2 separate regions of the Homo sapiens genome follow, and region 1 is linked to region 2. The links come from fine-mapping of genetic effects on gene expression. A gene starts in region 2. The other region holds a variant in brackets. All regions are shown on one strand. Distances are from middle to middle. Region 1 has its middle 44 kb from the start of LINC01516. Region 2 holds the start of THNSL1 (threonine synthase like 1).

Evidence for each region. PIP is the estimated chance that this variant, and not a neighbour inherited with it, causes the effect.
Region 1: its variant is fine-mapped to the expression of THNSL1 in subcutaneous fat (GTEx, PIP 0.94).

What each region holds. Positions count from the first base shown.
Region 1 is chr10:25,066,029-25,071,411 of GRCh38, forward strand. No RefSeq gene overlaps it. Among named protein-coding and RNA genes, the nearest start is that of LINC01516, 44 kb to the right of the region's middle. RefSeq lists enhancers at 1,725-2,284, 1,902-3,101, 2,285-2,843. The variant G/A (reference allele first, on the strand shown) is at 2,065.
Region 2 is chr10:25,014,249-25,019,631 of GRCh38, forward strand. It overlaps THNSL1 (threonine synthase like 1), which reads left to right and starts at 2,364. Exons shown (of 3, transcript NM_024838.5): 1 at 2,364-2,444. It overlaps ENKUR (enkurin, TRPC channel interacting protein), which reads right to left and starts at 1,910. Exons shown (of 6, transcript NM_145010.4): 1 at 1,612-1,910. The coding sequence starts at 1,688. RefSeq lists silencers at 1,916-1,965, 2,296-2,495, 2,676-2,755 and enhancers at 2,039-2,801, 2,112-2,406, 3,006-3,085.

The DNA of each region.
Region 1 (5,383 bases), 52 kb after region 2:
TTCTTCAGTCCCCACCCTGTATAGGAATCTCTTCCTTAACATCCTTGCCAGGCAGCAACAACCTCAGCCAAACATTACCAGGAACAAGGTTAGACAGAGCAGGGACCCCCCATAGGGGCCTGCCAGTCACCCCAACAATCTTCCCAAGCATGGAAAGAAAGAAAAATTTAGAGTTCATTCAAGGGAAGTTCCAGGAACCTAGCTAGCCTTGAGAAGTAGATGAGGAACTTTATAATCGAGAAGATTTGCTGAGTATGTAAACCTGAACATCCTGCACATGTACCTGGGAACTCAAAATTTTTAAAAAAAGATTATATCAACCCTCTGTCAGAAGACATCATGAAAAAAAATACAAAACATTTAAAAAGGTAATAGCTTAAAACAATCACCAAGGAAGTTAGAGTCACAAAATGTTTTGTGACTATAGAAACTATAGAAACTAAAGACGACATCTTAACATGCGTCCCTGAGCTGTTTTTCAGAAACCCAGACGCCACCGAATGGAAAATACCATCTGCTAGAATGTAGACCTCAGAGAAGGGGAAGCTGAGGACTGAACTCTGACCGCCATTCTTTATCTAAATTTCTTCCTGGGGTCCTGGAGGAGGTCACACCCACGAGCCAGAGCTAACATTCTTTTCTGCTGGCCCCAAATTTTTAGAGAAAGCTTCAGCTCCTTAACCAATCTCAAATCAGAAAATCTTCTAATCTGGCCGGGCGTGGTGGCTCATGCCTGTAATCCCAGCACTTTGGGAGACCGAGGTGGTGGATCACCTGAGGTCAGGAGTTCGAGACCAGCCTGGCCAACATGGTGAAACCCCGTTTCTACTAAAAATACAAAAGTGGCCAGGCATGGTGGTGTGCTTCTGTTATCCCAGCTACTTGGGAGGCTGAGGTAGGAGACTCACTTGAACCCAGGAGGCAGAGGTTGCAGTGAGCCAAGATCGCATCATTGTACTCCAGTCTGGGCAAAAAGAGTGAAACTCGTCTCAAAGTAAAATAAAATATCTTCTAATCTACCCCAGCATACCTGCTTTGAGATGTTCCCCCTTTTTAGGTCAAACCAATATGTCGCCTTCATGTATTGATTTATGGCTTTGCTTGTCACCTCTGGCTCCCCACCTTTGAAGTCCCTTACCTGTAAACTGTCAGGGAATTCACATCTTAACCACATGCTGTCAATTCTCCTTCCTGGGCATCCTGCAATAAATCTCCCACTTTCTCTTGCTGCAATCCTGATGTGAGTATTGGCTTTGCAGAGCCCAGTGCGTGGACCCAAGGTTGGTTCAGTAACAAAGGAAATCAGGACCATTTAGGCCACTGTTGGACATTCCCAAGACCAGAAAATTCTTTATTTTAAGCTAAAATCCAATTTGAAATGAATTGACATTATGAAAAATTTATTTATTTTATTGCAATATTTTGCCCTAAAAAAAAATAATTTTAGATTGCACTGAAAGGCACATAATATTTTAGAAAGCTCCAGGCATGGTGGCTCATGCCTGTAATCCCAGCACTTTGGGAGGCTGAAGCAAGCAGATCACTTGAGGTCGGGAGTTCAAGACCACCCTGGCCAACATGGTAAAACCCTGTCTCTACTAACAAAAATACAAAAATTAGCTGGGCATGGTGGCGAGCGCCTGTAGTTCCAGCTATTCTGGAGGTTAAGGCAGGAGAATCACTTGAACCCATAGGCGGAGGTTGCAGTGAGCCAAGATTGTGTCATTGCACTCCAGCCTGGACAAGAGAGCGAGACTCTATTTCCAAAAAAATATATTTTAGAAAGGGATGAGGGAGTTCATAATCCTCCTGAAATTATGTAATTATGTACAAAAGTATGTATATGCGTATGTGCTCTTCGTTTTTTCTTTTTTCTGCATATTGGGTCCAGAGCTTTCATGGGACACCTAAGGGTCCTCAGTGATTCTGTGCTATCCCAGAAGTGTGATGTTGAGTTGAAGGTGTCACACTTAAACAAAATACAGACAGGCCACATCTCACTCAGGGGGAGGCATCCTGGCTCCATCAGCTTGCCCAGGGTGGCAGGGTCTTCTCTTTAGCCCA[G/A]AATAAGTACCCTTTCCCAATCAGAGCCCAGTGAATGTGCCATCTGTCTCAAGCCCAGCCACATAAAATCATGATGCTACCCGGGGCCTTTGTTTCGGGTAGTGCTCTTATTTTTCAGGGTGGCAGCCTGTCTGCGCCTTGACTCCTCTACGTCAGCACTGCTCAGCTATGGAAAAGTCATGAGGGATAATGGTGGTGTTTGTAGAGCCAGCATGTGTCATGTGGGTTTTCAGACAAAGGGATACAGAGACTCATGCTTTACTAACTCATCATCTGCATACCCATTCGGGAAGAGGAAATGACTGGGGCCACATCACTCCAAGCTTGTCTCTACTTGTCCTTGTGACGAGTATCTCACGCACACAAAGGGACACTTTTTTCTCTTGTTTTCACTAGCAAGTCCTATGTAGGGATGACATCATCTCTGTGCTGATTTACTTTAAAATACTTTCGTGCAATCGACACCCTAGGAGGAGGGAGGAAGGAGGAGGTATTTGAAGTACCCTAATCAGACATCCACGTTCCAAGAGTTGTTAGTTAGCATTTGAAACATCCTAATTAGGGATCCACACTTAGGAGGGGGTTACTTAGCACTTCAAATATTGTTATTGAAATCTACCCCACAAACGGTGTGTTCATTAGCATAAGAGATGGTGGAAGTAAAAATTTCCCTGGTGGAATGGTAGCTTTCAAGGGATGATTTTGACTGGAAAGAGTGTGCTTCCCACCACCCCAGCTGGAACAAGGTTTAAGAATGCAGCAAGCCAAAGACAATACTCCCATAGACAAACTACAGGTACAGAGCCCCATGCTTCCTGAGGCCCCTACATCCCCCCTTTCATACTGTATGTAGGACTCTGTTGTCCTGTCTTTAAAATATGGTGGCATTCCATTGCAGTGTACATTTTTATGTGCATTTTCAGTGCAAGGTGCTTACCAGAGTGTCCAGGATCAGAGAGCAGGACTAGACATCAACAGGTGAATGAGAGTTTCTGTGCCTGCTCACTAAGTCTTGCTTTCACCAGCTAATAAATGCTGAAACCTAGTGAGTAGTGACTACCTGTCACTAACTGCTGTTTAGTCCCCTGTTCAATGGAATGGTTAAACTGGCAACACCAGGTCTCAAAGAAAATCAAAGATAAATAAACTAGAGCCTTAGCATATAAATATCCTCAAGTTTCTCCTGTACAATTTAAGATCTTTCAAGAAGGCCAGGCACAGTGGCCTGTAATCCCGGCACTTTGAGAGGCCGAGGCAGGAGGATTGCTTGAGCCCAGGAGTTTGAGACCAGCCTAGGCAACATAGGGAGATCCCGTCTTTACAAAAAAATGAAAAATTACCTGGCTGTGGTGGCACACACCTGTGGTCCCAGCTACCCAGGAGGCTGAGGTGGGAGGATCACTTGAGCCTGGGAGGTGGAGGCTGCGGTGAGATTATGTCTATAAGGAGCTCAGTGCCTGCACAGGAAAAATGTGATCATTTTTGCTTTTATTATTAATCACCTAGTTAACTTCCACTTGATCATTAAAATTCATCTCAAGTGTCTTCCTTTCTTAGAGGTTTCTCTAGTCACCTCCTTAAGTCCCTACTCTGTGTTGTCACAAAGCCTGACCAACCTCTATGGAAGCATGTACCATACTCTATGGCTAATTTCTTTTTATGTGTTAATCTCCACTGTTAGCTCCTTGAGGGCAGGAATTATGCCTTGTTTGTTTTATGTCCCCGGTACCTACTATATAATAGATATTCAAGAAATATTGAATGAATGAACAAATGCATAAATTAGATGGGGATATACAGCTTTATGCAGAGACCCCCTGGGAGGGGTCTTTGAGAGTTACCATCCTACCCAATGGTTGAATGGTAGTTGGGGGGAAGAGGAGAAAACTGAGTTCGATTTGGAAATTACAGATAGAATTTTGCTTAATATATAGAAGCACTTCTGTGATTATCAAAAAATGGAAAGGAATACTTCAGTGGTATTTCTCCAAAGTTATTTCAGCAGAGGTTAGTAGCGTGGTGAATTTTATTCACTCACTCCATAAGAGATTTGCCTAGGAGTTATTGTCTATCTCTAACATTGCGTGACAATTCCATACGAGAAATAAAGGGCTATGAAACAGTCTCCCATAAACATTTGGGCTTTATTGCATGTTGATTCTATGTCTTAATATCCTTATCTCTTCTCCTAAATGTGCTTTTTAGTTTTCAAATGATCTGTATCTCTTTTTGATCAGCTCCCTTACTTATATATGTACTTATAGGCAGTTTTTTTGATAAGATGACATAATCTGTGAGGCTTTTGCTTGGCTGTTGGGAAATGGAGATAATTGTAAATTATTCATATCAAATTGTTGGATTTTAGGTCTACTTGCTGAAAACACAGGGATGGCCAAGGAGGTCATTTTGGTTTTAAAACCAGAATGGCTTTAAACAAAAAATGGCTTTAAGACCAAAAGTCAGGTAAATCTTGTGCTGAACTAAACCTCTAACTTCACAGTGTTATTCATTGAATGCTAAAAAAATTTTATAAAGCCTCCAGAGAATAGTCAAACCCCCAATAAATCCAAGGCCCACACTACTTTTTCCAATTGCAGTAGCCAATTGATGATTGAATGGGAATATTTGCAAGCCATAACTGTCTTCAGACCATGTAACCAGGAAACTAACCATGTTATCTCTGGAACAAGCCTTTCCACTCAGTGCAGGACACAGAGGGGGCCTTTCCACTAAGCAGACAGACTTTTTATTTTGTGAGTAGGTAAAAAATAGATCTAATCTACTCATCTAGAATGATCTTGCCATTTTTATTATAAAAATCAGAGAATGGCAGCACTGTAATAAACATTTAGCAATATATATTTTTTTTCTGAGGCTTTTTTGGAAATACAGAGAGGCTTCTATTACCTTAGGAAATAACCAGGTAACTCCAAGTATTTATATCCTATACACACTTTTTCTTCATTCCTTTATGGATTTTTCTCTGTATCAGTTGAGTAAGGATCTGAGATAGAATGGAAGCTATGCTTTAAGAATATGGATGCCTCTTTTCAGCACCAGGTAGAACGAAGACCAAGATAGGCAGCTAAAATGTGATACTTCCAAGCAAGATAGATTTGAATTGATTTGATAATGATCTGATTTGCCTCTCTGTCTTGGACATAAGAACAGAACATTGGCTATATCTTGACTTCACTTGAGGCCATTTAGAGACAGGGTTTATTGACATTTAACCCTAAGAATTTTCCTTGGCTTTAACAAACTATAAGTATACTATTGTTCTTCATGATGAATGTGACAACTGGTCACATCTTGTGGA
Region 2 (5,383 bases):
GGAGATCAAAAGCCAGGCAGTTGTCAGAATCTTGCCAGTGTAAATTGACTTTAACCTAACAGAAATGATTCTTTTGGCATCACATTTGGGTGCCTCTATTTCCTCTAATCATAAATCTTTCTTCTACTCATTTCTTCATAGTAAAACCAAGAAGTCTGTGCTATCACTCCAACAGCACCAAGAACAGATATACTAGTGCAATATTATACACATAATAGGGGCTCCATTAATGCTTGCCAAATGAATAAAGACTGTTCCTATAAATTTTTTTTGAAAAAAAAAATCGTCTAGATGCAGTAAAGCTTTTTAATTTGCCAAAGAACAGAATACCTACCTAATAAAATAACTCTCAAATTCAATATTCTATAGAAATACAATCTACCAATCTGTTATAGAGGAGTTTTATCTCATGTAATATGCAGGAATTTGAAACCAAAAGTTGGTGCAACAATAGAAAATTTGAAAATAAATTCTGCAACTGTGCCATAACTTACTTTACATTCCTCTTTCCAGTCTCTAGATGTTGATATGCTAATGGAGATGTAATACAGTTACTGCTCTAATTTAAACCAGATACTTAAAATTGAAGAAGCTGCCTACTTGTTGAAGCTATTACCCTAATACTAGTAAAAATAATTGACCATTAGATCTAAAAGGGGCCTTGGATATTATCTGGTACATTTATCTCACAGATCAGTAAACAAATGAAACTTTATTCTAAAGTTCACAAAGACAATTAATTGCTAGGCCCGATTTTTAGTCCAGTCCTTTTCAAATGTGGTTTTGACTTGCATACGGACAAGGATGATGGTAAAAGACAGGAAACATTTCAAGTCCTAGGAGAAATGAGATTTTCTCCACTACTTTCTTTGCTCCCCACAGATTTAAGTAAGTTCTAAGAAGTCCCTACAGATGGGAGTAACTGAAGTGCTTCCTTTGCACGTTTTTGAGATTTGGAGAATTTAAGAGGTTCTAAGACCTATGTAAAATTTCAACTCAATTACATATTTTTTGGTTCATTATCTATCCACCAATTCTTCCTTCCATTTAAACCATTAGATCTGAAAAAGTCCTTAGAAACTGCCTAATAGTGGTAGATATTTCGTTTCACTGATCAAAAACCTGAGGCTCAAAAGCAAATGTAAATTTATATTTCATAAAAATCTTGGGGGAAAAGTCCTATCCTATCCCATTAGAGAGGGAGTAGTGCAGTTAGAAATACAACACCGAACTCCTGAAACCAAACATCAAGTATCCTTAAACAAGATAATAGAATTGTGATTTTTTTCTTTTCAACATGAAACTTCATACTATGCTGTATATCACATATAATTAAATTACACAATAATCACATACCGTATTAATAAGAGGTTAAGTGTAATATAATAAAATGGTCATCTCACAGCGCCAGACTGCCCTCTCTGTAAAACTGTGAGATGCTGAATACCTAGATATTTCGACCTTTTCTCTAACAAGTTATCCTCCAAGGCTACTTCATCGAGGCAAAAATACATTTTATTTATTATTAAAAATTCCAGTATATGTATGCTTAATTAATACTGAGTATTCCCCATTCTTGTTTCAAGTGATAGTCTTTGCTTATCCACATACCTAGGAGGCTGGGGAGGCTCCTTCAAGTCACTGGGTATGAGGTTATAAATGCACTCAGAAGAGCACGTTGGATCCATGGCCACCAAATGACTCCTTAAAAGCTACTCTCCACAACTTTTTTCTCCCTGTCCCAGTATCTCCGTCCCTTTCTTCACTGCTTCCCCTTTCTTTCTTCTTCGCCTTCTGAAGGACCACAGGTTCTCTCCTTCACATCGTCCCCCTTTAACCCCCTCTTAGCAGTCCTCTCTCGGGAAGAAAACACCCTATTTCTCTCCGGATTGCTAAGCGTCGTTGACTGTGCGGTTGCCGTGGAAACCGTTACTAGGCAACGAGGAAGTGGCAGGCAGCACCGCAAACTAGGTCTCCCCTCTTCCCTCTTTCTGCAGCGCCTTCTGCTAGAGAAGCTCATTTGGAAGCCACTGTTTTTACGTGCCTTTGAAAGTTAACGGGGTGAAAATGATGTCCCCTTAAAAACTGTGCTCTTTTCTATTTCTGTGTATCTGGGGAAAAAAGAAAAATCCTAGTAGAGACGGCAAAGCGCAGCTGGTGCGCAGGCGTCACCCAATAAGGTTTTTGTGAGCAGGCCCCAATCGCGGTGTGGGCGGAGCGAGCGGCTGAGACCACGAGGACGCAAGGCCAGCGCCGCCAGGGAGACGAGGGAGGGGAGGAGCCTGAGGAGATCGGAGTGCTCGGATAGGCTACAGTGAGAAAGGAGAGTCACGTGCCCTGCGCGAGGCCGCTCGGGGAAGGGCGTGGAGCGGAGGCACGCTGGCCGCCGCAGGCACAGGCGCAGAGTCCACTGCGCGGGGGCGGGACCGGGGAGCTAGCTGCAGGTACGGTGCTCCGTCTCCTGTGGAGGCTTTAGCGGCTCGTGGACACTGCTCCCCCATTTCCTTTCATTTCCCCCGTCTTCTCAGTGAGATTTCCTTGGTGAGTTATTGGAGGAGAAAGGAAGGAAAACTAGAAGCCAGCCCGCTCCCATCGCATGCCTTTCCCCGTACCGTCCCTTCCCCTTTCCGCTACTCGCTGGTCATCTCAACTCTGCGCGCATTTTTCCTGCTGCTTCTGGTCGAGGCTCCTCGGAACGCCGCGCAGCCCTGCCCGCCACGTGTGTGAGTGCGCGCACGGGGCCCGCGGCCTCCTCCGCCTGCTGCGCTCGCCCTCCCGCCCCTGCTCCCGGGACCGCCCCTTGGGCGGTCCTCCGGGTCGGCTCTGCGCCTGCTCTTCCCCGGGTCGGGACTCTTCCTCTAGGTCGTTCTCCAGGAACCAGTGGACCTGCTCTTTGTAAATGAGCAGCCTAAACTAAGAGGAGAAGCCTTTTAAGTGGGCCTTTACGTTTTTGTCCAGTTTTTGGTGTCCCTTGTTGGAAAATTGTCTTCTGAGAAGCGGTTTTATTCCTTTTTGTTCCACCTGGTCACCCGTAAATCTATGCACATGGGCCTGCCGTAGGAAAGTCATTTAGACGCTTTTACCCGAGTGTTTAAAAGACATTTTGGTAATAGGATTTGGGGAGGAAGATGGATGCCTCTGAACCACCGGTACAGAGGCCACTCTGCCCGAAGGAAATAAAGCTTCCCGGAGAGGAGAGAAAACACACTTGAGTCTGGGTTTCTCACTGCCTGGTTGGCTGGCGGAGTGATTAAAACAACACAATGGCCTGGTGAACCTTTTAGTTCCTGTATAAAAAGGCTTTACTGAATGTGTAGGTCCTTACTTTGGGCTCTTACTGAATTTCACTACATAAGAATACGTTAAGTTTTTCTTTTTTTTTTTTTTGTATACAGTTGATTTTAATTTTTGTCCCAGACGCTTAGGGAAAATTCTCCAGATTTCTTCACATCAGATTGTCTTCCAAAACATTTTAGATAGATGGATCTGTAGATCTATATTTAGATCTAGATCCAAATCTATATCACTTTGCCCCTTTCTTTTCGCCCTTGAGTATTTTATGTTTGGGATTTCTGTTTAGCAAGTATAGAGAAAAAATTTGGCGGGAAACCTCCTGTATGTACGAAGATTCGAACCAAGGACTCATGGAATGATAACGCCATTAGCCAAGTGGATAGTCACTGGCTAAAGCTTATGAATTTTCTAATTAGAAGGAACACCTTGAGACTATTTGTGTTAATCAGTTCCTGAAATAGCAAGTAAGGGCAAAACATGATTTCTGCAGTTAGCACCAACTGGCCTTTGGTAGCCTTGATGTTCTGGGGTTACTGAAATAAAATAATTTCACTGATGTCTGTATATTTATTATGCTTTAAAAAATGCTAAACAATTTGTGCAAGACCTCACTGTGGTATAGTTAGTTTACAGCCATGAGCAGGTTGTTAAATCATTTGGAAAAAAACTTTTCTTTTTTCTTAGACATTTGATCTGCAATTCTCCTTGCCTTTTGAAAGTGTGTTTAAGCAAAATTATTTCTAGTTTTTATAATGCTCTTGAAATGACACTTCAAAAAAATGCCTGTGTCCACCGCATGTCCACAGGGAATTAACTGGTATATACCTACAGGGATGAACAAACTGTCTATAAAGGGGTAGACAGTAAATATTTCAGGCCTTTTTAGGCCAAGTGGTTATGTTGCAACTACTCAGTTTTGCCATTGTAGCTCAAAAGCAGCCAAAGACGGTACTGAACAAATATGTGAGCACATGAATGACTGAAGTTGTGCTTCAAAGAAACTTGATTTATGAAAATGATGGTGGGCCAGATTTAGCCTGTGGATTGTAGTTTGCACAGATCCTAGATCCCCGTATATAATGGTATGCCTGTGATGTACATAAACAAATGAGAGTTGTTTTTTTTTTTTTTTTTTTTGCGAAGGATTATTTTAATCTATTTAAATGAATAAAATGGGTGTAGATGAGTATATAAGACAATTGGAAGGTAAATAAACCCTTTATAAAGACAGGTTCTTTATAATTCTCAAAGTTATAGAATTGTGGATACTAAAGTTTTCAATTAAATATTCGAGATCGTTAAGAATATGTCTAACAGCAGAAGTCTAACGGCAGAAAAAGCTTAGTCAGCTTTGATAGTAATATAAAGACTAAGTGATGAACTTGCAAAATTGTTTTAGTTGTGAGATCCTTGTGATTACAGAACTATACTGGATTGTGTGGTCCTTCCACCCTCACCTCTGTTTCATGGCAAGTGGGAGGCCCTCTGAATGAAAAGTTTGAGAGAATTTTTGGTCAGAAGTCAGAAGCAGTAGAGCTTAACCTCCTTTTGGCTAGTTTGTGTCCTGATACACAGTTAGTTCTCCATATCTGTGAATTTCCCATTCTCAGATTCAACTAATTACAGATTGAAAATATTTTAAAATTTTAGTTGGGCACAGTGGCTCATACCTGCAATCCAAGCACTTTTTGAAGGCCAAGGCAGGAAGACTGCTTGAGCCCAGGAGTTGGAGACCAGCCTGGGCAACATGGCGAAACCCCCTCTCTACTAAAAATACTAAAATTAGCTGGGTGTGGTGGTGCGTGCCTTTAGTCCCAGCTACTTGGGAGGCTGAGGTGGGAGGATTGCTTGAGCCTAGGAAGTCAAGGCTGTAGTGAGCCAAGATTGTGCCACTGCACTCCTGCCTGGGCAACAGAGTGGGAGCCTGTCTGAAAAACAAACAAAAACACGAAAATAATGGAACAGTAAAAATACCACAAACAAAAAAGCAAATTAGTACAACAGCTCTGTACCTAGCATTTGCATTGTATTATGTATTATAAGTTATTCAGAGATTAAGGTATACAGGAGGATGTGCACAGGTTATATG